Homo sapiens: one gene and its partners. The protein of the gene in region 5 interacts with the protein of the main gene of each other region in a pairwise test. Each region holds a gene or a part of one and is shown on either strand. Other genes may lie near its edges. The genes, in order: MARK3, CDK14, PRKCI, CSNK1E, YWHAH, MARK4 and MARK2.

The links.
Region 1: the proteins of YWHAH (region 5) and MARK3 interact in binary tests that used the Homo sapiens proteins (3 or more experiments, as listed by UniProt).
Region 2: the proteins of YWHAH (region 5) and CDK14 interact in binary tests that used the Homo sapiens proteins (3 or more experiments, as listed by UniProt).
Region 3: the proteins of YWHAH (region 5) and PRKCI interact in binary tests that used the Homo sapiens proteins (3 or more experiments, as listed by UniProt).
Region 4: the proteins of YWHAH (region 5) and CSNK1E interact in binary tests that used the Homo sapiens proteins (3 or more experiments, as listed by UniProt).
Region 6: the proteins of YWHAH (region 5) and MARK4 interact in binary tests that used the Homo sapiens proteins (3 or more experiments, as listed by UniProt).
Region 7: the proteins of YWHAH (region 5) and MARK2 interact in binary tests that used the Homo sapiens proteins (3 or more experiments, as listed by UniProt).

Annotation. Positions count from the first base shown.
Region 1 is NC_000014.9:103,465,415-103,468,914, reverse strand, and holds part of MARK3 (MAP/microtubule affinity-regulating kinase 3), read right to left. Parts: intron 3,359-3,500; coding exon 3,122-3,358; intron 2,944-3,121; coding exon 2,824-2,943; intron 2,573-2,823; coding exon 2,473-2,572; intron 1,837-2,472; coding exon 1,724-1,836; intron 883-1,723; coding exon 729-882; intron 1-728. UniProt on the Homo sapiens protein: Serine/threonine-protein kinase. Involved in the specific phosphorylation of microtubule-associated proteins for MAP2 and MAP4. Phosphorylates the microtubule-associated protein MAPT/TAU. Phosphorylates CDC25C on 'Ser-216'.
Region 2 is NC_000007.14:90,725,321-90,728,820, reverse strand, and holds part of CDK14 (cyclin-dependent kinase 14), read right to left. Parts: intron 2,255-3,500; coding exon 2,009-2,254; intron 1-2,008. UniProt on the Homo sapiens protein: Serine/threonine-protein kinase involved in the control of the eukaryotic cell cycle, whose activity is controlled by an associated cyclin.
Region 3 is NC_000003.12:170,298,924-170,302,423, reverse strand, and holds part of PRKCI (protein kinase C iota type), read right to left. Parts: intron 3,430-3,500; coding exon 3,314-3,429; intron 1-3,313.
Region 4 is NC_000022.11:38,300,434-38,303,933, forward strand, and holds part of CSNK1E (casein kinase I), read right to left. Parts: intron 2,816-3,500; coding exon 2,705-2,815; intron 2,577-2,704; coding exon 2,428-2,576; intron 520-2,427; coding exon 291-519; intron 1-290. Other genes in the region: TPTEP2-CSNK1E (casein kinase I), read right to left, coding at 291-519, 2,428-2,576, 2,705-2,815.
Region 5 is NC_000022.11:31,947,535-31,951,034, reverse strand, and holds part of YWHAH (14-3-3 protein eta), read right to left. Parts: exon of another isoform or gene 1,883-3,500; intron 1-1,882. UniProt on the Homo sapiens protein: Adapter protein implicated in the regulation of a large spectrum of both general and specialized signaling pathways. Binds to a large number of partners, usually by recognition of a phosphoserine or phosphothreonine motif.
Region 6 is NC_000019.10:45,257,771-45,261,270, reverse strand, and holds part of MARK4 (MAP/microtubule affinity-regulating kinase 4), read right to left. Parts: intron 2,283-3,500; coding exon 2,082-2,282; intron 1-2,081. UniProt on the Homo sapiens protein: Serine/threonine-protein kinase. Phosphorylates the microtubule-associated protein MAPT/TAU. Also phosphorylates the microtubule-associated proteins MAP2 and MAP4.
Region 7 is NC_000011.10:63,908,315-63,911,520, forward strand, and holds the end of MARK2 (serine/threonine-protein kinase MARK2), read left to right. Parts: intron 1-562; coding exon 563-923; 3' UTR 924-2,706; downstream 2,707-3,206. UniProt on the Homo sapiens protein: Serine/threonine-protein kinase. Involved in cell polarity and microtubule dynamics regulation. Phosphorylates CRTC2/TORC2, DCX, HDAC7, KIF13B, MAP2, MAP4 and RAB11FIP2. Phosphorylates the microtubule-associated protein MAPT/TAU.

The DNA of each region.
Region 1 (3,500 bases), on a different chromosome or scaffold from region 5:
GCTCACGTCTGTAATCCTAGCACTTTAGAACGCTGTGGTGAGAGAATAGTTTGAACTTGGGAGTTTGAGACCAGCTTGGGCAACATAGCGAGACCCCCATCTCCATTTAAAAAAAAAAAAAAAAAGGAAAACTACAGATTAAAGCAGAGGTTCTAGAAGGGCAAATGGTAAGGTTTCCACTCAACTAAGCTTTATCCAGCAAAAATCTACTGCATGTATAAAGAAGATAAGAGCCTTGAAGTAATATGTAATCATGGCAGCACCTGCAGGAACACTAAGAAAAAATGCTGGCCAGGCACGGTGGCTCATGCCTGTAATTCCAGCGCTCTGGGAGGCCAAGGCAGGTGGATCACTTAAGGCCAGGAGCTGAAGACCAGCCTGGCCAAATGTGGTGAAACCCCGTCTCTACTAAAAATACAAAACTTAGCCAGGCATGGTGGTACACACCTGTAGTCCCAGCTATTCAGGAGGCTGAGGCAGGAGAATCGCTTGAACCTGGGAGGTGGAGGTTGCAGTGAGCCAAAATTGTGCCACTCCACTCCAGCCTGGGCAACAGAGTGAGACTCTGTCTCAAAAAAAAAAAAAAAAAAAAAAAAAAAAGAAGAAAGAAAGAAAGCAATGCCAAGAAAGGACATCAAGCCAGGCTCTGAGCAAGAGAATGCTTCCCAGTGCTAGGAGACCTCTTGCCTGGACTCTAAGAGAAGGCACTGGGATACTCCAAAACTTACCATGGTCACTGTAGCGTCTTTGCTTTTGGCTTGAAGAAACACTTCTCTGCACTTTGTGGTGAGGAGACTGGCCAGTACTGTTGTTGAGATCACTGCTCGGCCTAACCTTAGCAAGTGAAAGATTGCTGCTAGAACTGGAATCACTAGCATCCAGCTAAGAGAAAATGAGAAAAACAGAGCAAACCACAACACGAACCCAAATGGCTTATTAGGAAGTTAAACTTTTCATTAACACAGACCTCTCATAAACCGTTCATTCAGAGAGAGGAGGAATCACAACGTACAAAAATGACAACCCTAAACTCAAGCAAAAGTAGTTTTCTGACGGCTGGAAAGACACTAAAGGTAAGGTATTTATGATTTTCTTTCCAGGCTTTCTCAAATAACTTTAAATGTTGTATTTACTTCATCTGATGCTTTACGTCATTTCTAAGCTATTAATGACTACAGGTTAATTTATGAAAGACCAGGTTTATGACAACATCCATCTTTTTTTTTTTTTTTTTTTTTTTGAGACAGAGTCTCGCTCTGTCACCCAGGCTGGAGTGCAGTGGCGTGATCCTGGCTCACCGCAACCTCTGCCTCTCAGGGTCAAGCAGTTCTCTTGCCTCAGCCTCCCAAGGAGCAGGGATTACAGGCAAGCGCCAACACGCCCAGCTAATTTTTTGTTTGTTTGTTTGTTTTAGCAGAGACAGAGTTTCCCTATGTTGGCCAGTCTGGTCTCGAACTCCTGGTCTCAAGTGATCTGTCCGCCTTGGCCTCCCAAAGTGCTGGGATTACAGGCATGAGCCACCACGCCTGGCCAATATCCATCATTAAGGGTTAAGTTAAAATAGCTTATAATAGTCATAGGATTTAGATTTGCTATTTGCAAGTAAATCTAAAAAATGATGTATCAAATGTTACAAATATTCAAAAGATAAAAACTAAGAAAACAGTTTATATAAACTAATAATTACATACAGGGTATTTCAGCTCTTTCTGATTACTCTTACCTCTGAAGATTTTCTCCCCAATAACAAATATGTAGCTGTGATTTCATCGTATTTCATCTTACTAAGAGATTCTTGAATTTCTTCTTGTGAATATCCCATTCCCACCATAATATCTAAAAGAAGGGCATAATACAGTTTATGTGTTTTGTTTGGGTAAGAAATCATCCTTTTTTTTTTTTTTTTTTTTGAGACGGAGTTTCACTCTTGTTGCCCAGGCTGGAGTGCAATGGCGCGATCTTGGCTCACCGCAACCTCCACCTCCCAGATTCAAGCAATTCTCCTGCCTCAGCCTCCCGAGTAGCTGGGATTACAGGCATGAGCCACCGTGCCTGGCTAATTTTGTAGTTTTAGTAGAGATGGGGTTTCTCCATGTTGGTCAGGCTGGCCTCGACCTCCCGACCTCAGGTGATCTGCCCGCCTTGGCCTCCCAAAGTGCTGGGATTACAGGCGTGAGCCACCACGCCCGGCCAGAAATCATTCTTTTGTAGGGTAAAATAATTTTCATTTGACCTAAAAGATGACATATTACATATATTTTGTAACATAAATGGGCACTTGTTTCAGAGTTACTGGGTGCCATTATAGGAAACTGCAGGTAGTTACGTTCCTAAATATGACAGAACAGATAAACTGTTCATATGACTTGTGCTTAACTTTCCATTATTCACATTTTAGGCACAGACATGAGTCAAAACAGAAATATGTTACTTAGACAAAAACACATGAACATGCAGGCATGGAGTGATTACCTATTCTTTTTTGGTCTGAGATGTCTAGCTCTGGTTCAACAAATGGTTTGAGTTCATCTTCTTCATGCCCTGCATTGATCCACCTGTCCTTCATGATTTGCTAAAAAAGGTAAACTGTTCATTAGCAGAGTAAAATGAAATATTCTGATAACCGTAATATTTACAAAAATTTATTTTCAACATTTCATTGACTATCGTTCAAAGCATAAACTCAAAAAATATTTTTTAATGTTTCAATTCTTGCTTAAAAAGCCGCAGGATATATCCAGTATGGCATACAAATCAAGCAAAGATCTAAGGTCACTCTAAAGACTCTCCAAAGTTACTGCTTGTTTCCACCTACATGATTACCTCTAGAGTGCCGCGTTTAATTGGATTTAGCACCAGGAAACGTTTGAGAAGGTTTTCACAGTCTGTAGACATGTAGAAGGGAATTCTGTATTTCCCTCTTAATACTCTCTCTCTCAGTTCCTTTGGAGAGGTACAGAGGAAAGAAAACGAGTAAGTCAACCTTTAGGTTTAGTTAACAAAACACAACAAAAAACCCCCTGAAACCCCCCGCACTGATATAATGTTAAAAATATTAAGCCATGTAATATTAGGAAACTTCTTTTAGTTTAGTGAAGTACATGGGTGCAGCTTCTTATACCTTTAGGTTTTGCCCATCAAAGGGAAGTGAGCCACTGACTAGTGTGTATAAAATGACCCCCAGACTCCACACATCCACTTCTGGCCCGTCATATTTCTTGCCCTGGAAGAGCTCAGGTGCTGCGTATGGAGGACTGCCACAAAACGTGTCGAGTTTACCGCCAACAGTAAATTCATTGCTAAAACCGAAATCTGCTATTTTAATGTTCATATCGGCATCTAACAATAGATTTTCAGCCTAGAGGGAAAACATCAAGACAAAAATGAAATTTAGCCAAAATAGAATTAGAATTATGACAGGATTAGGCATTTTAGAAAAGCTTTCTGTAATGATATGAAGTTACCTCCTAATTAATGTGAAAACATTCTTTCTAGAGAAA
Region 2 (3,500 bases), on a different chromosome or scaffold from region 5:
GCCAACCAACTGACAAGCCACCCAGGCACAGAGCTTCCAATCAACTTCTGAGTACATTACTCATAACATAAACTGACAGCCAACAGTTTCTCTCCAAGAGGCATGACATAGACCCACCAAAAATCTCAACAGGTAAGGCAGAGACCAAAACAAATAAACAGAAACAAGAAACTCAAAGGAAATCCAGAAATAATTCAGAGAATATGTAAAAGGAAAAAAAATTCCCCAAGCTACATTTTGTATCCTCAGAAACATATGAAGTGATATGTTATTCATTGAAATAGAACAGGATACTTTTTAAAAGAGCATTCAAAGAATAAGAAAGAGTTCATGGAAATAAATATTAGTATAATTAAAAATCCAATTGAAGGGTTAAAAATTAAAAGTTAAAAAAACCCAGAAGGTAGGAAAAAAAAGATTTAAAATAATAGGGAAAAGAAAAGGTAACTAGAAGATCAATCCAATAATGCCAACATCCAACTAATAAAAATGTTATCGTAAAAGAGAAGATTACAAAAAATTAAATAAACATATAAGAAAATTTTTGAAACTGAAAGAAATTAACTCAAAAATTGAAAACACCCATTGATACCAAGAAAAAGGATGACACCAGGGATGAAAAGAAAGTCCTAGAAAGTTCCACAAACAAAAAAGCAGATAAAGGATGAACTGGGAAACCAGAATAGTCTAGGGATTTCAATACAATCTAGGCACCTAGAAAACAATAAAACAAGGTATTCAAAAGTCTAAGAAAAAATTATTTTCTAAACTAAAATCACATACTTGGCCAGATTATTAATCAAGTAATCAACGACAGATAAAATCATAGTCATATGACAAACCCCCCATCACCCTTTCTCAAGAAGCTACTGCGAGGATGTACTTTAAAACAATGAAATAAACCAAGAACAAGAAAGACATGTAACCCAGAGAATGGGTATTTAACATTAAAAAAGGAGGAAAAAATTCTCAGAAAAGGACGCCTTATGACTATAGGATTAGAGGTTAACCAATCTATATTAAATTAGGACTATGAAGAACTGCCAGGGCAATCTCAGTGGGGGAGAAAAACTGATAGATTATCTGATTTGTTTTGGAGGCATTTTACAGTTTTGTCATATAGTTGCAGGCCTCAAATTGTGTTTAAAATTATCTTAATTTGAATGAAGGAAAAGTAGACAATGACAACTAAGAAAATGAAGAAGTTGTGCAAGGAAGGAAATTTATTCATAGCATACTTGTGGTTTCCCTGACCAAAATTTACATTATCATACAATTGTAAATAATGTATATTAATTTAAGCCAAAAAGTAGGAAAAAATGTATTTGAGAATAGAAATATAACAGAGAATATTCTCTCTTGGTGTGTTCCTTTCTAACTTGTAAATCACTAGTTATATCTAAAGTCTGTTTCCCTCTAACACTTCTTTCTGGACATTCTCTTCTTTCCTTTGGTCCTACTGAATCTACCCTACACAGATTTCTACTCCAGCATTTTCCATTCAGTACAGGGCTTTGTCCTGGAAAAGAACTTCAACTTGTCACTTTACAGAGTCACATGAGAAAGACTGGTGGAGTACCCCCCCAAAAAAAACTGGATTAACGCAAGTGAACAAATTTTGATATTTATTCTGCAATGAAATTCCTTGTGAATTTGCTAATTTCAAAACTATCCTTACTGCCTACACAGTAAAGTTCAATAACCTCTCCAAGGGTTTGAAATACAAAAGACTTTTAATTATAAATTCCTCTAACTAGAAACAATTAAGGGGGAAAAATGATTTTTCCAAAAATAAGTTGAATCATTTCATTCATTTGCTTGCTTAGTGCTTATAAATAAGGAGTCCATATATAGTTTGCTCTCTCTCTTCCAAAACATTCAACCACCCTGGGAGAGAATGCATAATAAGGCACTGATAAAGTTTCCTGCTGTCTTCCAGCACCGCATGCTATCATAAGAAGGCTATTCCTTCTGTTTACCCAGTGATAAACAAAAAGACTGCACTTACCGAGCTGGGGCTGGAGTGCCGCCTAACTTTAGGTGACTCTTTGCCAGTGGAGGAGGTCTTAAAGTTAATGCAAGCATTGTTCTCAGAATGCACCCTCTTTACTTGATTAGCTGGTTTCTCAAATGGGTCAAAAGTGCTCTGTGTCCTCTGAACTCTGACTTTTTTATCCTCAGGAATTGTGTCCAGGGGTTTGATCACTGAGTCCATTCCCTGGCAGTTCCGTGTAGACATCTTTGTGACACATATCTGAGAAAAGAAGAAATTAAATTCAGAACTCTTCACTGCAACTTTAATATCACTAAACATGCCAATATATAACTCTAGAAAGCATGCCAATTTCAGTTTCAGGAAATACCCAAAAAGCCCACATTCTAAAAGCTGCATCAGCATAAATTACAGTACAAAAAAATCCTCACAATCATTGTGTTTACACTTAGATCTCACACTAGAGCTTACACTAAAAAATCTACCTCTAAAATGAGAAACTTAAGGCCCAGGCTGCTAGTAGTACCCTAACATGATTCTTGAACTCTGTCACACGTTTTACCATCTGACTGGAAGTGGTTTATTTCTGAATCATTAAGAGGTTGGGTAACTAGCCTTAATTTAAAAAACAAAAAATAGGCAAATCAGATGGACATTAACTGATGGGTCATCGTGTAAGCAGCTAACCTAGGCTAGAGAAGGAAAGGGCATTATGTTGTTTAAAAGTTTTATGCATGAATATGTATGCTTAAAATCTGTCCCCATCTTGATTTCATCTCCAAATTGGAATGAATGGAGCTAATGGTTAGAGATACTGAAGAACTGAGGACAATGGTGGGGGTTTCCTTTATTTCAAAGCTAATGGATAAAAAGAAATAACATTGTAAAAGAAAAACACCAAAAAGCATTCATTTCAAAATTTGGTTTACATTATTCCACTAGACCTCCACCTCCTTCCCTTCTTCTTCCTTCTTCACCCATTCTCTTCTCACCCAGCCTTCCCCACCCTCTCATTTTATTTCAGTCTCTGTGATTTTTGCTCCTTGCTTTTTACTTTAGTTCTAAGCCTGTCATTCTCCCGATACTCTGGAGACTTTGTTGTCTTTATTCAATAATTTGATGGCCTCTGGCTTGTCTGTAAAGCTAACTAATTTAATTGTTCTCTCTAAAGAAAATATAACTCTAAATAAAATTGTTTTTAGAATGCTTTTCTTCTTATAAAAAGTTCCCACATCCCTATATGCTATCAAAAGCAGAAAAACCGAAGATATTTATGAAAAGCCCACACTGTTAAGGTAAAAATACGAAGTTTTTGAATACACACTTTGGGTCCGTGGTTGGTTGAGTATGTGCATACAGAACCCACAGATACACAGAGCTAATATGTATAGAATGACTCCATGTGGGGTATAAATGCGGCTATGTATATGGATAGATATAGACAGATACAGATATAAATACAGACACAGATGCATAGATATAGATATTTGTGAGTGTATGAGCATGG
Region 3 (3,500 bases), on a different chromosome or scaffold from region 5:
TCCTTCAAGGAAGGGAGGTAATTCCTACTGGAAGAGAAAGCAGTACTTGTTAAATTTTATACACAATAAGCTAAGTCCTGTTCTAACCATGGTTCTAAAGAAAGGTGTGACTTCTAGTTGGAGAAATCAAGGAAGGCAGTATTCATTCTGCAAACACTTAATGAATGGAATGATGAAAGACTGTGGTAGGTCTTGGGAAATGCAAGTAATTAGGGTGGAGCACAGGAATAGAAGTGTGTTAGATGATGCTGAAGAAAAATAATGGCTAAATCAAAGAGGCCAGTGATGTTTACACTAAGGAGTTTCACCTTGATCCATCAAAGATCTGGTTGCATCTGAGGTGGCTCTGAAAGATGGGAAAATTTCAATAGGTAAAAATGAAGGCGGGATACACAGGAATGAACAGGCAGAAGCAGAGACAATAATACTACTAGGGAATGGTGAGTAGCTAAGACTGATCAGAACACTGTTTGTATTATGGTGAGAGGTATCGCTAGAAAGTCAGGCTGGAGCAGATGTGGGGAGGCCTTAAATGCTAGCCAAGAGGATAGATGTTACCTGATAGGCAATGAAGGAGTTACTGAAGGTTTCTAATTAAAGGGGTTCAAGAATTGGAGTGGTACTTCACAAGGCATACAGAATAGGTTGCAAAGTGAAGGAGTAAAGATCAATTAGGAGGCTGATACAATACTCTGGGTATGACTTGAATGAGGCCTGAACTAGGGTGTGTCAACGGGAAGAGAAAAGAAAGATCTGATGTAAATGATGAAATAATGAAAACACAGACAAAGACTTGGCAGCTGCAGGTATTATGTAATCTGTTAAGAAAAAGGAGGAGTCCACAATCACTGACATCTGGAATCTGAACAACAGGGACACACCGTGAGCAGAATTAGGTAACTAAAAAAAAAGGAACTGATTGAGAACAATAGAAAGAGATCATAAAGGGTCATTACTTTCATTTTAGACTTCATATATTTGAGCTGCTTGGCTGACAAACTGGGGGCCGTGTTAAACAGAAATGCAGCTCAGGAGATCTAACGGCAGGGGATAAGTGCTTCAGAAACCATCATGCATTTATTCTTCACAGCAACCTTATGAGGTAGGCAATTTGAGAACAGGCTCAGAGAAGTTATGCAATTCCTATCCAAGGTTACCCAGTTGGTAAGAGGTGGCATCGGGATTCAAACTCCTATCTTTTGATTAAATCCAGTGTTCCTTCTAATACACAATGCTGTCAGAAATAATGACTTGGTACACATCTTTCTCCTCTAGTAGACAGCACGCTTTTGGGGAGATCAGACTGTCTTGATTGTCTTTGAATGTCTAGTATTTACCATAACACCTTTTGCTCAATAACCATTTGCCATTTAACTGAGAGCCATTTAATTAGCTGGTATCTATGCTACAGGGCTGGCTGAAATCTCCAAGGTACAAACTGCATATAGCAAAAAGAAGGCTGTCATGAACAGAACCATGGAGCATCCTGGTCTCAAGGGGACAGGGAAAACACATGAGAGGAAAGTAGTCACAGAGATGAAACAGAACCAGAATAGGCAGTGCTACCCAAGGCAAAGCCATGAGTACCAAATGCTTTACATTAATCAAGGGAGAGGAGGACTGACCCCAAAATGCTTTACAATTTAGAAATTAAGAAATTGATTCAACCTTCAAAAGCTGGAGGACAGGTTCGATTGTAAGGGGTTGAAGTGTTGACAGTAAAAAAAAAAAAAAAAAAAATTCAAGACAATCAATGTTGACTAGTCTGAAGAAGTTTGATTAGAGGTGCTGTGTATTTATTTTTCTTTGACCATGAACATCTATTAACTTTTTTTTTTTTGAGGCTTTAAGATGAAATGAAAATGAGGAAAAACGTGGTTGTTCAAAGAGGGGCCATGAGTTAGGGGGAAAAATCAGAGTATCTGAGCATGCTTACACAGAGGGAAACAAGCTAGAAAAAAATAAAGAAGGTCTAATAAAAAGATAACTGACAAAATGAAATCTTGGAGAAAACTAAGGAAACAGGTCTAGGAAAATAGCAGGGACACCCCTTGTAAAGGAGAGTCTTCCAAGAGTAGGGAATAAGAAAATGATGAAAAGAGTTAGAAAGCAATTCTGAGATGCAAGGTGGTCTGGGGACAGCTGCAAAGGAGGCAAGGTCACGTCAGAGAGGTTATCAGTCCTTGCATCAAATTAAGACAAGGTTAATCCATTAACAGTGATGGAAAAAGGAGTAGAACTGAAGGCTTCTGAAATGAAGAGACTGTTTGGAGCAGGTGCTGGGAGAAATGTGGTAAGAAATGAGATAGAAGTGAAATGACTGCCAAACAATAAGGGCCTCCCTGAGATTAGAGAGAATGAATCTGTAACAACAGGTAAATAATCAAAATATCTCCCAATTATTCCAAACTACATGTTTAAAAGATGAAGTATAAGCACAAAAAATATACCAGATCACTGATGGCTGGATTTAATAACTCAATGTAATTTCTTAAAAAAAGCAATTTGGCAATACAAGAGCTTTAAAATGTTAATACCCTCTGACCTAATTCTCTTTCTAGGAATCTATCTTAAGGCAATACTCAGGAACTCAAAGACAGTCCTTGTCAAATGGGAAACAGTGCAGCGTGGTAGAAAGAGCACAGGCCTTAGTCAGTCAGATTTGGGTTTGAATCCTGACTCTGCCACCTGATAGCTGTGTAACTTTGCTTAACCTCTCTGAGCCTTGGTTTCCTCATCTGTAAAACGAAGATGACAGTAACTAGATTACAAAGTTGTTGTGAAAATAAGATAATGCACTATAAAGCAAAGGAGAAAATGACAGTTACTATTAAAACTTATAATGGTACAGTAGATACAAATACCAGTAACTGAATGGTTGTATAAATTATAGTATAGGCCGGGCACAGTGGCTCACGCCTGTAATCCCAGCACTTTAAGAGGCCAAGGTGGGTGGATCACCTGAGGTCTGGAGTTCAAGATCAGCCTGGCCAACATGGCAAACTCTGTCCTTACTAAAAATACAAAAATTAGCTGGGCGTGGCGGCACGCGCCTGTAGTACCAGCTACTCAGGGTATCTGAGGCAGGAGAATCATTTGAACCTGGGAGGCAGAGGTTGCAGTGAGCCGAGATTGCACCACTGCACTCCAGCCTGGGCAACAGAGCGAGACTCCATCTCAAAATAAAATAAAATGAAATAAAATAGAAAATAAAAAAATTATAGTATAATCTGATAATGAAACATTGCATAGTCACTAAAAATGGGATTTCCAAAGAACTTAAAAAAAAATTTCAGTGTACAGAATTACTTACTCGTCATCTGGAGTGAGCTGGACAGGTTCATTAGTAAACTGAGAATCAAAGTTGTCCAAACCAAATTCCCCAGAAATATTTGGTTTAAAGGGAGGTACCACCTGTTTTTGCTCCATCTGAAAAGACATACTGGATGACAGCTCAAGTCTGTATTCTTAGAAAAACTCCACCTCTACAGTTCTCCTCT
Region 4 (3,500 bases), 6.4 Mb from region 5:
CAACCCATGTTAAACCTCTGAGCCTGTATCTTCCAGCCTGCACCAACAGGGCGGAGGAGGAAGCAGGGCCAGGGAAGGCGCCCGGCACACACAGCTTGGCTTACGAAGGGGAAGACCCGACTGTGCAAGGACACGGAATAAGCACGAGCTTGGGGGCAGACGGGGTGGGGACTTTCTCACTAGAAAAGAGCCTGGGGGCCTCCATCAGGGTAGGGGGTGAGAGGGCTCCAGAGAGCTGGGCCCCAGCCAGTGGCCCCGGGTGCACACTGCTCCAGGCCTGGCTCCCTCACCAATGCCCAGGTGCGTGTTGATGGAAGCGTAGCGGGCCGTGCCGGTCAGGTTCTTGTTTTCCCGGTAGGGAATGTGCTGGTGGGTGCGGGCGTCCCGGTACTTCTTGGCCAGGCCGAAGTCGATGATGTAGACCAGGTTGCCCTTCTTCCCCAGCCCCATGAGGAAGTTGTCGGGCTTGACGTCCCGGTGGATGAAGTTCTTGGAGTGGATATACTCGATGCGGCTGATCTGGGGAGGAGGGGGGCCATTTGTTCAACAGAGGGGCCCTTGCCTAGCACTCTGGGCCAGGCAGGGGCTGGGGCCACAGAGGTGGAAAGGCAGAGGGAGAAAGGCCTGCCTTCGACCATGAAGGATAACTAAGGGGCAGGCCAGAGAAGGCCTCCTGGAAAATGTGACATCAGGATGAACTCTAAAGGGGGAGTTCACCAAGTTGGCTGTGAGACAGAGAAAGAGAGTATTGCAGGAAAGCTAATGGGAAGATCCAGAAATGAAGAGTCTGCTAGAAAGGCAACTGGTTCCCCATGGAAGGCTTGCCTGCCCGGCCCCACACTCACAGGACTTAGGGAGCCAGAGAGGCAACAGATGTGGGCGAGGGGCAGGCAGGGAACATGGGGGAAGCCTAGACCAGGAAGAGGTGACAGAGGCAGAACACAAAAGACAGGGCTTCCGAAGGATGCCAAACTCAGACAGGCACATGGCCCTCTTTCCTTTGATATTTTTTTTTTTGAGATGGAGTCTCGGTCTGTTGCCCAGGCTGGAGTGCAGTGGCAAAATCTCGGCTCACTGCAACTTCTGCCTTCAGGGTTCAAGTGATTTTCCTGCCTCAGCCTCCCGAATAGCTGGGACTATAGGCACGCGCCACCACACCTGGCTAATTTTTTGTATTTTTAGCAGAGATGGCGTTTCACCATGATGGTCAGACTGGTCTCAAACTCCCGATCTCAGGAGATCCGCCTGCCTCGGCCTCCCAAAGTGCTGGGATTACAGACTTGAGCCACCTTTTCAGTCGAGTTTTTAAAACTCAAACTAATATCCATCCACATGCCGTGGCCTCTGGCTCTGGCCCCAGGTTCAGCACAGCTCAACATCTCCTGCACCTTTCTTGAGTTTCACACCATGAGGGGCTCTGGCGACCCTCTGCTCACACACCTTCAGCCTACATCGCAGGGCTTTTGCAGACCAAGATTAAAACCCCTGTACGAGATCTCCACATTCCATTCCAAGTTCAAAATTCTACAGTTTTGTATTTTTAAGAAGCTTTCCTCCCTATGCTGATGAAGGGCTTAGTACTTAACAACAGCCTGTTAGAGGGGCCTGTTTTGGCAAGGCGCTGAATGGTATCTCACCTAATCCCCTCAACAACCAACAAAGGAGAGACTCTCACATGAGGCCACTGAGGCTCAGAGAGGTTCGGCGTTCACCTACGGTCACTGGTCTGGAACAGGACCAGGTCTGTGTGACCGACCGCAGGCTTTACATTACCCAGGGCAGGCCAGACGTGGTGGATCATGCCTGTGATCCCGTGTTAATTCCCATCTTGGGAGGCCAAGATGGGAAGACTGCTCAAGGCCAGGAGTTTGAGACCAGCCTGGTCAACACAGTGAGACCCCCATCTCTATTTCTTACAATTAAATGATATTTTTGAAATAAATAAATAAAACTACCCCAGGCAGAGTCCCAGGCCCTGACTCGGCAGGTCTGGAGTTGGGCCTGAAATCACATTTTAAATAAACAACTTGGCTGGGCACGGTGGCTCACGCCTGTAATCCCAGCACTTTGAGAGGCTAAGATGGGCGGATCACTTGGTAAAACTCTGTCTCTACTAAAAATACAAAAATTAGCCCAGCGTGGTGGCAGGTGCCTGTAATCCCAGCTACTCATGAGGCTGAGGCAGGAGAATCGCGTGAACCTGGGAGGCGGATGTTGCAACGAGCTGAGATCGCACCACTGCGCTCCAGCCTGGGCGACAGAGTGAGACTCCGCCTCAAAAAATAAATAAACACCTACAATTCTATAGCCAGTGGACAAGGTCCCCTGGCCCAGGCCCATCCTCTGGCATCCTCTGGGGGCAGGAGGCAGGGCTGGTATCCTGGGCCCACAGGCATCTGGCTGGGGATGGAGGGGACGGGGACTCACCATCTGGTCGGCCAAGAGCAGCACCGTCTTGAGGCTGAATTTGCGGGAACAGAAGTTGAACAGGTCCTCGAGGCTAGGCCCCAGCAGCTCCATGACCATCACGTTGTAGTCGCCCTCAGCTCCGCACCACTTGATGGACGGGATCCCCACTGGGGGTCAAGCAGAGGGCCTCTGTCAGGGGTCAGAGGCAGGCAGCCAGCCACGCCCGGCCCACCCTGTGCTCATGGCTGCCCACCGCCACCCACCCGGCGCCCGCCGCCGCCCACCCTGCGCTCACCGCCACCCTGCATCATCTTGTAGAACTTGCTCTCGATGTGCAGCTGGGGGTGCTTTGTCTTCACACACTCCAGCTTGATGGCGACTTCCTCACCAGAGGCGATGTTGGCACCTGCCCGGGGCAGGGAGGCAAGGGACCAGGGTCACCCTCAAAGGCCAGGCAGTCCCAGGCGCCCCACTAAGCATTTCTGAGATCTGGCGTGTGCCGGGCCCGGGGCCATCTGCCCTTGAGGAGCTCTTGGGGGAGGCTGGGAAGGGGGCAAAGGAGCCCCGGCAAAGGGTTCCTGAGGGGAAAGAAGGTCAGCGCTGTGAGGGACAGAGGTGACACACAAGGGCTACCCAGGGCCACAGGTTGGGGCGACAAGAAGGCCCGATGTGAGTGGGGCAAGGGTCAGGTATGCAAAAGGCTCACAGACCACCTAAGGGAGGGGGCTGAGTCCTAGAGCAAATTCAGGCAGTGAGGTCTGTCGGGTTGAGATGGTGGCACGTGCAGAAGAGGCCCAATGGGGCTGGGCTGCCGAACACACCAGAACAAGCCAGGACCACCCTGGCCTACAGGATGAGGATGGGACAGCCGCAGCAACCCCTCAGTCAATGCTGATGCCTTCAGAGGCAGCCCTGCACATTCTAATCCAGTGTCTCATTCGATTCTCAACCCCCTTGTAGAGATGAGAAAACAGAGACCCAGCTAGAGACCCAGCTCAAGGTCACCTGACCTGTAAATGGCGGCCTTGAGATCAACCCCGGCTCTGCTGGCCTCCAGCATAGGTCAGAGGTCCTGCCTGCACCTCCCCGTC
Region 5 (3,500 bases):
TGTAATCCCAGCTACTTGGGTGGGACATGACAATCGCTCGAACCCAGGAGGTGGAAGTTGCAGTGAGCCAGGACTGTGCCACTGCACTCCAGCTTGGGCGACAGAGCAAGACTCTGTCTCAAAAAAACAAAAAATGAGCTAGAGGGATGAAAGCTTGCTGAGCTCTTTCCCAAGTTAATGCTTAGGAAGTGAGGATCTTGCCTGGCCTGCCCCAAGCTGGAAAGATATCCACCAACAGACCAAGTCCTACAGGCCACTGGGCAAGAACATCACCAGCCAGGGTCAGGCTGAGCCCCTTATCCTCACCAGGATGAGGCTGCAATTCTGTAAGACCACAAATAGGCTAAACTTCAAGCTCAGAGCAGGCAAGTTCGGGTAAGTAACATCCACTCTAAGCTAAATTTTAGTCAAATAAAACAGCTACCCTTGTATAGCCAAGAGACTGTTTTTGCCTTGCTTTTGACATAACTGAACATTTTCATGGGGATTGGCAAGGATTAAATACAACACCATCTGAATGGCATTACTGCATGCTACTGTCCCTAGAGGCATCCGAATTGAAGGCTTCAGAAGCTGTGCCAGGTTCGGATCATTGGAAGTGCTAACACTCACCACCGCAGAAGGGAATGCCACTGCAGCCAGGAGTAGGGGCGGGAGGAGCACCAAAATGCTGGGACAGAAGACAAGCTGCCTCCACTTGGACACTAGGAGGAATTTTACCAGCAACCTAGAGACAGAAATTTTGGGGCCTGCATAAAAATATACTAAAGGGTGCAGGGAGAAAAATACATTAAAGGCAATATGGAGAAACAACTGGTGCCAAGAATATGAAATAATTTCTTAAAATACCCCAAATAAAATGTAACATAGTCCTGCACTTCTTAACTCAGGAGAAACTCAAATTCAATACTTTGTTAAGCAAAAAAAAAAAAAAAAAAAAAAAAAAAAAAAAAAAAAAGGCCTCCAAGCCTTCAGAACAAGCAAAATCCAGATATGTGAGTTTCCCTCTTATGTTTCTCTGTTGTAGCTAAAACCCATAAATGGCAGATTGTTCTTAATCGTATTTGGAAAAAAAAAATGACTTGCACCCAACAGATAAAATTATTTGTTTAGTAAGCCCACTTATGAAGAGTTCTTGGATTTCAGTCACCAGTGCTGACAATGGTTAATATACCAGAATGTATACTAGACATATTATCCCTTTGCCTCATGGGGCATTGTTACATAGTGGTTAAAATGAGAGCTCTAAATTTGAGTTTGAATCTTGAATTCACAACTTACTAGCTGTTTGACCATGAGAAAATCAACCTCTGAAAGTCTCATTTGTAAAGGGGAGTAACAGTACCTATCCTGAATTGTTAAACAAGAATGTACACATGGAAGGTGGCGGGCACCTGTAGTCCCAGCTACTTGGGAGGCTGACACAGGAGAATGGCGTGAACCCAGGAGGCGGAGCTTGCAGTGAACCAAGATCCTGCCACTGCACTCCAGCCTGGGTGACAGAGCATGACTCCCCCCCCCACCAAAAAAAAAAGTACACATGGACTAACAGCTACCGTTTACCAAGTGCCTAAAAAGTTAAATAAGTTCTAACCAAGCGCAGTGGCTCACGCCTGTAATCCCAGTACTTTGGGAGGCCGAGGCAGGTGGATAACCTGAGGTCGGGTGTTCAAGACCAGCCTGACCAACATGGAGAAACCCCATCTCTACTAAAAATACAAAATTAGGCGGGCATGGCATGGTGGTGCATGCCTGTAATCCCAGCTACTTGGGAGGCTGAGGCAGGAGAATTGCTTGAACCCGGGAGGCAGAGGTTGCAGAGAGCCGAGATTGCTCCATTGTACTCCAGCCTGGGCAACAAGAGCGAAACTGTCTCAAAAAAAAAAAAAAAAAAAAAAGTAAAATATGTTATATAAACTTGCTAAATGTAACACACACACACATAAAACGTTAGGGGTACCCTCTCCGAAACCGTATTTCTGGAAAAGTGTGACGCTACAGTCTGTCACTGATATAAAATCCCAGACAAAGACCAACTAAAGAAAATCCCCACCAAAGAAAATACATTTTTGGTTTCTTTAAGGGAGTCAGTTCCGGACTGTGGAAGTTCTTCTGGGGATAATTCAGGGACCCAAACCCACATGGGGACTACAGTTTCTATTTCAGTGCAAGAAAGCCACGTAAGCTGTTTGCCCACCTGAAAGGACCTTTTAAATTCAAACTATTACAAGAATAATCCAGAGCCTTCTTCCTTCCTCAAAGACGATTACATTTTAAATGCCCAGTTAGTGGGAAACATAGCTCCCTAGTTTTTACATATTTCAAACTGTAGTATCAATGTGGCTTTAAGATTTCCTACTGGTTGGGTGTGGTAGCTCACTCCTGTAATCCCAGCACTTTAATAGGCTGAGGCAGGAGGACTGCTTGAGGCCAGGAGTTTGAGACCAACTTGGGTACCATATAGAGATCCTGTCTATACAATTTAATAATTAGCTGGGCACGGTGGCATGCATCTGTAGTCCCAGCTGCTCAGGAGGTTCACTTGAGCCCAGGAGCTCAAGGCTACAGTGAATTATGATCGTGCCACGACTGCACTCCAGCCTGGGTTCCAGAACGAGACCATCTCTTTAAGAAAAAAAAAAAAAATACTAATCACACCTCAAAATCCTCCTACTCTCTGTGACACTGATCTGTCTCACCTGGGGCAGTCAGCTGTGCACTTTTACACAGCACCTGCTCATTTCCCCACTTCCCAGAATCTCACAGTTGTTGCAACAACAGCCTTTTGCCAGTGGTTGGGCCAAATGCCCCTCCTCTCCGACTCCTGTTTCCTTAAACTGTAGTTTTGTTTCCTGCACTTAAGATTTCTAGGGAGCCGCTGTGGCTCAGGCCGGTTGCCCTGGCACTCGGGGAGGTGAGGCTACACGTTCGAGGCCAACCTGGTCAACACTGATTAAAAAAAAAAGATTTCTATATATATATTCTGCAGGTACTTTAAACGTGTTTCTGCCCGTTTTCTGTCAACACTGTAATCAACTGGTGTATCAGTGTTAAAACACAATGCTAGCCCAGTAATTTTTACATTTGATAACTTTACAGTTACCATCTATGTTTTAATATAAAATAGATGACTTAGGGCCATAATACATGATGAAATTATGTCTGTCTATGAATATCCACCAGAAATCTATCTGGTTATTTTCCCTCTTTCCTTAAATCACTTAGTCTTCTGGACTAACATTTAATCCCACTTTATAGGTTTATTTCAGTTATCAAATGGTATTTACAGAGACTACGAATTGTGTAGCCTAGAATTGCCTAGCCTAGAAAGGACTTAGGTTCTAGAATCTTTCACAATATTTCTTCCCACTATTATACTCTATGCAAGCTGGTAGGTATGAGATAGAGCTTGAAGATACTCCTTTATGCTTCACTTCAGAAACATTTCTTGCTTCTTCAAATTATGGAGAGAAGCAGGGAAGAGAAGTTCTCAACAGGTT
Region 6 (3,500 bases), on a different chromosome or scaffold from region 5:
CCTGTAATTTTGTTTCTTGTCTGGTTTTGCTCTTAAGGACAAACTAGCGCGTAAAAATCAGTCAGGCAGTGGCAGTTCTTTCTTTAGTCTCTGGAAGAACTGGCATAAAATGTGAACATCTGGTAGGATTTGCCTGTAAGACCATCGGGGCCCGGTGTCTTTTGCGTGTATGGTGTAGACAGCGTGAGGGCAGGGGAGAGTCCATCCAAGGCAGGATAATTCATTCCAATCATTTCTCTGAAGTTGAAGGAGGGGTGGGGAAATCATGAAATCACCCACCATTCCTTTTCCTCTAAGTGAGTTAGAGACCTCATATCTAGGCTGCAAAGCCTGTGTGGGCCCTTTTTGCAATAATGTCACCATACTCAGCACAGATGCCTGCTCTGGAAGAGGTGGTGGGGAGAGTGAGGCTGTGTGTAACTGAGAATACAACATAAATAAACCTGCTGTGTTCTCCAGATCACAGGAAGATTTCAAGGAACCAAAGTCCACCCTTAAAACAGAGAGGCAGCTCAGGTTTATTTATTTTTTATTTTTAATTTATTTACTATTTATTTATTTATTTATTTATTTTTTGAGATGGTCTTGCTCTGTCACCCAGGCTGGAGTGCAGTGGCACAATCTCGGCTCACTGCGGCCTTCGCCTCCTGGGTTCCAGTGATTCTCCTGCCTCAGCCTTCCAGGTAGCTGGGCTTACAGGCACGCACCACCACACCCAGCTAATTTTTGTATTTTTTTTTCAGTAAAGATGGGGTTTTGCCATGTTGGCCAGGCTGGTCTCGAACTCCTGACCTCAGGTGATCCACCTGCCTCGGCCTCCCAAAGCGCTGTGTTTGTTGGTATGAGCCACTGCACTCGGCCAATTTTTTTTTTTTTTTTTTGAGACAAAGTCTCGGTCTTGTTGCCCAGGCGGAATACAGTGGCACCATCTTGGCTCATTGCAACCTCTGCCTCCTGGGCTCAAGCAATTCTCCTGCCTCAGCCTCCCAAGTAGCTGAAATTACAGGTGCCTGCTATCACACCAAGCTAATCTTTATATTTTTAGTAGAGACGGGGTTTTACCATGTTGGCCAGGCTGGTCTTGAACTCCTGACCTCAGGTGATCCACTTGCCTTGGCCTCCCAAAGTGCTGGGACTATAGGAGTGAGCCACCGCGCACGGCCTTTTAATTTTTTTATTTTTTTGAGACAGAGTCTCACTCTGTCACCCAGGCTGGAGTGCAGTGGCATGATCTCGGCTCACTGAAACCTCCGCCTCCTGGGTTCAAGCGATTCTCCTGGCTCAGCCTACTGAGCAGCTGAGATTATAGGCATGTGCCACCACGCCCAGCTAATTTTTGTATTTTTAATAGAGACAGGGTTTCATCATGTTGGTCAGGCTGGTCTCGAACTCCTGACCTCAAGCAATCCACCTGCCTCAGCTTCCCAAAGTACTGGGATTACAGGCGTAAGCCACCATGCCCAGCCCTCTTTTATTTTATTTTATTTTTATTTTTTGAGATAGGGTCTCACTCTGTTACCCAGGCTGGAGTGCAGTGGTGAGGTCACACCTCACCGCAGCCTCAAACTCCTGAGCTCAAGCGATCCTCCCGCCTCAGCCTCCCAAGTAGCTGGGACCACAGGCACACACCACCGCACCCAGCTAATTTTTAAAAAATTTTACTTATTTTTTAGTGGAGACAAAGTGTTGCTATGTTGCCCAGGCTGGTCTCAAACTCCTGAGCTCAAGGAATCCTCCTGCCTTGGCCTTTCAAAGTGCTGGGATTACACGTGTGAGCCAATGCATCCGGCCACAGCTCAGGTTTATCTACAAAAGCCACATGCATCCTTAGCAACGCACACATTGGACTGCCTGTGATCTGAGATTTCCCGGCAATTTCAGGGATACATGAAATTAGTTCTCTTTTCCCATGGGGGTGGTTCTGGGAACATCAGAGATATTGTGACCTGTCCCATAGAGAGTCGGGAACTTACCTGAGGCCACAAAGCAAACCCAGGGCCAATCCTGACCTCTATCAACATACACCGAAGACCTGGTCCCACAGGGACCTGCCCCGAGCCCCACCCTGTGCCCATACTCACCTCCCGACCAGTGAGGATGTGCCGAGCCAGCTTGACTTTGGCAAAGTTGCCCTTCCCAATGGTCCTCAGCAGGCGGTAGTTGCCCACGTGGGGCTGCTCCTCGGGACAGGAGGCGATGGAGTTCCGGCAACGGGCACCCAGTGAGCGGCTGGACCAGGACGGGCCTTTGTCCGAGGAGCGGCCACTGCCCAAGGTGCCATGCTGGGCGGGGGAGATGGAGCATGAGCTATCCAATCCCACCTTCCGTGGAACCCGTGGGCTAGTGCACTTAACTTGAGGCCTGGCTACCGGCCCCTCCGTGGCCCTTTTCAAACTCAGGCCCCAGAGAGCCAAGCATCCTTCATCTTTCTCTACAAAAAGACGCCTCCAGGAACAAAAGCCCCCATGTCCTCCAAATCTGCAACATTCAGGGCCCCAGGCATCACACCCCTTCTTCAACCCTCACTGCAGTCTGACTACCCCCAACCTCCTTGTCTTTTTTTTTTTCCTTCGGATGGAGTCTTCCTCTGTCACCCAGGCTGGAGTGCAGTGGCACGATCTCAGCTCACTGCAACCTCTGCCTCCCGGGTTCAAGCCATTTTCCTGCCTCAGCCTCCCGAGCAGCTGGGATTACAGGCGTGCACCATCATGCCTGGCTAATTTCTGTATTTTTAGTAGAGACGGGGTTTCACCATGTTGACTAAGCTGGTCTCAAACCCCTGACTCAGGTGATCCACCTGCCTCGGCTGTACGGATTACAGATGTGAGCCACCGCATCCAGCCCCAACCTCCTTTTCTAATTACACACATACCTCAGAGATATCGCAAGTTTGGTTCCAGACCACCGCAATAAAGCAAATACTGCAAAAAAGCAATGCACATGAATCTTTTGGATTCCCAGTGCATATAAAAATTATGGGCCAGGTGGCCAGGTGCAGTGGCTCAGGCCTGTAATCCCAGCACTTTGGGAGGCTGAGGTGGGTGGATCATGAGGTCAGGAGTTCGAGACCAGCCTGGCCAATATGGTGAAAACCCCATCTCTACTAAAAAAATACAAAAATTAGCCAGGCATTGGCACACGCCTGTAATCCCAGCTACTCTGGAGGCTGAGGCAGGAGAATCACTTGAACCTGGGAGGCAGAGGTTGTAGTGAGCCGAGATCGCTCTACTGCACTCTAGCCAGAGTGATAGAGTGAGACTTGGTCTAAAAAAAAAAAAAAAAGGCCAGGCATGGTGGCTCACACCTGTAATTCCAGCACTTTGGGAGGCCGAGGCGGGCAGATCACGAGGTCAGGAGATTGAGACCATCCTGGCTAACAAGGTGAAACCCCATCTCTACTAAAAATACAAAAAATTAGCCAGGCGTGGCAGTATGCGCCTGTAGTCCCAGCTACTTGGGAGGCTGAGGCAGGAGAATGGCATGAACCCAGGAGGTGGAGC
Region 7 (3,206 bases), on a different chromosome or scaffold from region 5:
TGGAGCCAGCACTGGCCCTGCCCGGGCCACCGGGCTTGCCACAGCCTCCTGCTCCTCTCTTCCTTCTGCCACTTGGCTCTTCCTCCCGTGGTTCTGCCCTGTCCCTACCCTCTGGGGCCTCCCTTTCCTCAGAGAGTTTCCCCTTCCCAAACCCAATTGCAGGAGTTACGGGCCCTTCTCCTCAGGTCTGGTATATTCTGGAAGTCGGAGTTCTGGGTCGGGTGGTTGGGGCTACAGATTCCTACCCCTGGACTATCCCACCTCCCTGTGCTCGGAGGCTTCTTTCTGGAGAGAGAGTCTGTGCTCGTGCTGTTGAGGGCACTGGTGTCTTCCCTGACCCCACCCCGCCTACCCCAAGGCTGGCTTCTCCTCCCCTTCGCTGTCCTGAGAGATGGGGGTTGGAGGACTGCCACCCTCCGCCCCCGCAGGCCAGGGGCCACGCCTGGCTGCTCCTGCTCCCTCCCGCTCTCCTCTCTGGGCTCAGGGGCTGTCTGCCAGGGTGGCTCTCCTGGGGTGGGGTGCCTCAGCCCCCCCGTGACGCCCGCCTCTGCCCTCTCCACAGACCTCACGTGGTGGGCAGTGGCGGCAACGACAAAGAAAAGGAAGAATTTCGGGAGGCCAAGCCCCGCTCCCTCCGCTTCACGTGGAGTATGAAGACCACGAGCTCCATGGAGCCCAACGAGATGATGCGGGAGATCCGCAAGGTGCTGGACGCGAACAGCTGCCAGAGCGAGCTGCATGAGAAGTACATGCTGCTGTGCATGCACGGCACGCCGGGCCACGAGGACTTCGTGCAGTGGGAGATGGAGGTGTGCAAACTGCCGCGGCTCTCTCTCAACGGGGTTCGATTTAAGCGGATATCGGGCACCTCCATGGCCTTCAAAAACATTGCCTCCAAAATAGCCAACGAGCTGAAGCTTTAACAGGCTGCCAGGAGCGGGGGCGGCGGGGGCGGGCCAGCTGGACGGGCTGCCGGCCGCTGCGCCGCCCCACCTGGGCGAGACTGCAGCGATGGATTGGTGTGTCTCCCCTGCTGGCACTTCTCCCCTCCCTGGCCCTTCTCAGTTTTCTCTTACATGTTTGTGGGGGGTGGGAGATTGTTCTCCAGCACCCCACATTCACCCCTGCCCAGAGATTCCCCCTTCTCCTCTCCCCTACTGGAGGCAAAGGAAGGGGAGGGTGGATGGGGGGGCAGGGCTCCCCCTCGGTACTGCGGTTGCACAGAGTATTTCGCCTAAACCAAGAAATTTTTTATTACCAAAAAGAAAAAAGAAAAAAAAAATCCCAGCGGCCACCTTTCCTCCCTGCCCCATTGGGACAGTCGAGACTGGATCTGTGGGGTTTCCCGGGAGGGTGGCTCAGGGCTGGAACACTCTCAGGCAAGAGTGGTGGAGCTCCCGTCAGGCCCTCCGCCAGGCCCACTGTGGGCTTCTCCCCTCTCCTCCCTCCTTCCCCTCCAAGCAAACCACCAGAGGTGGCCTTCCCCTGACCTCAGGCCCCTGGGCTGGAGGCCTGGGCGGTGGGGCAGGGGGCGGGGGTGCTGCGCAGCCCTGCAGTGGGTGGGGCTGGGGGCTGCTCCGGGGCTGCTGAGGCTGGAGGGCCGGCACAAGGCTCCGCCTCCCTCCACACTGTACCCTCTGCCCCTCCTCCCCAGAGCTGGGCATTTCCTTCCACAAGCTGCTGTGGGGACGTGTGTTCCCTCAAAGTCTGTGCCATCTTCTCCCACCCCTCCCGGGTAGAAGGAGGGGCTGACCCCAGGGCTGGGAGAGGGGAGGGGACTGGAGGGCAGACTGGCTTCTCGGTCCCCAGGGGGCCGCTTGGGCTGTTGGTCTCCAGAGCAGGGCCACTGGGCACTCTGTGATGGGGGAGCCTTTGTCTGAAAGCACAGCCCCCTCGCCCTTCCTCTCCCCATGGCTTCCCCTTCATTGGCATTAATCTGGGCACCAGCTCTCTCCATAGCAGTGACTTCCCTCACCACTCTCATCTCTCAGCCTTGCCTTTTCTTCCTGACACTGTCGCCCCCTCCTCTCAGGAGACACTGCCGAGGGCCACCTGGCAGAAGGCTGAGTTAGGCAGCAGGGCCGGGAGCGTCTGCCCTCCACAGGGTGGGGGACAGATAGGCTAAGCGACTCCCAGCTTGCTACCCTCAGTGGCCAGTGTGGGCGTGGGCGGTTTGGGGCGCTTGGCTGGTGGTGGCCACTGCATCCCTTAATTTATTTCTCTGCTGTTTCTGTTCTTGAGAAATTGGGGGTGGGAGTCCTACACAGAGGCTGCCCCTACCCTCACCTGAGTTGTACATTTTTTTGTGATGGGTTTTATTTTTTATTATTTTATTTTATTTTTTTTTTTTTTGATTTATGATGACTCCACCCCTCTTCATCACCCCCGCTCCCAGGCCAGGCTCAGCGATTAAGCCGAGCCCTTGCGTCCTAGGAAGGGGCCTTGCCAACCTCAGCCCTCCTGCCCCACACTCCTACTGCGGCTCAGACCAAGGGCTCCCCCTCCCTCCCTTCCCCCCTCCTGCCCTATGGAACAGCCCGGGTGCTCTGAGGGGGCTGGGAGGGCATGGCTTGGCTCCCAAAGGGGGTAGGGGCCCGGGGCACCCAGGCAAGGTGGCCCCTCCCCGTCTAGCCCCCTCCTCCCCAACCCTGCACTTAGTTTCTCCTCTGGATCAAACACGTAATAAAGAGAATGTTTGGAATCTGAGCTGCCTCCTCCTGTTTCTTCTCCCAGCCAGGCAGGGACCCAGTCTCCTGTGGGCAAGATGTGGCCTAGCCCACCTGCCTTGCAGGAGAGACTTGATTCCTGTCTGGGGCCAGTGCTGGGTGGGCCCAGCTCCCCACTTACCCACAGGGCACAGACAGGAAGCAAAGCCCAGGGCCCTTGCACCAAAAGGGAAAGAAAACTCAGTAAGCTTAGATTTTATTTTTTTTAATTTTTAAAAAATGTTGAAAAATAAATCCATGTCTGCATAAGTTCCCAACCCCCATTTCTCCAAGTTTCTGGAAGGTGGGCTTGGTGGGCACCCTCAGCTCCTTAGCATTTCCCAGCTGGCCCCTGAAGACAGAGCTTCTCTTCCAGCCTCTGCTGCTGTAAGGCCCCTCTGCCCACCTCCCCCCCTGCAGCCTCCCTCCCCACCTCACCCCAGACTTATTGCTAAAAGAAGGGAAAGAGGAATGAGAACAGCCAGCACACCCAACTGCCCT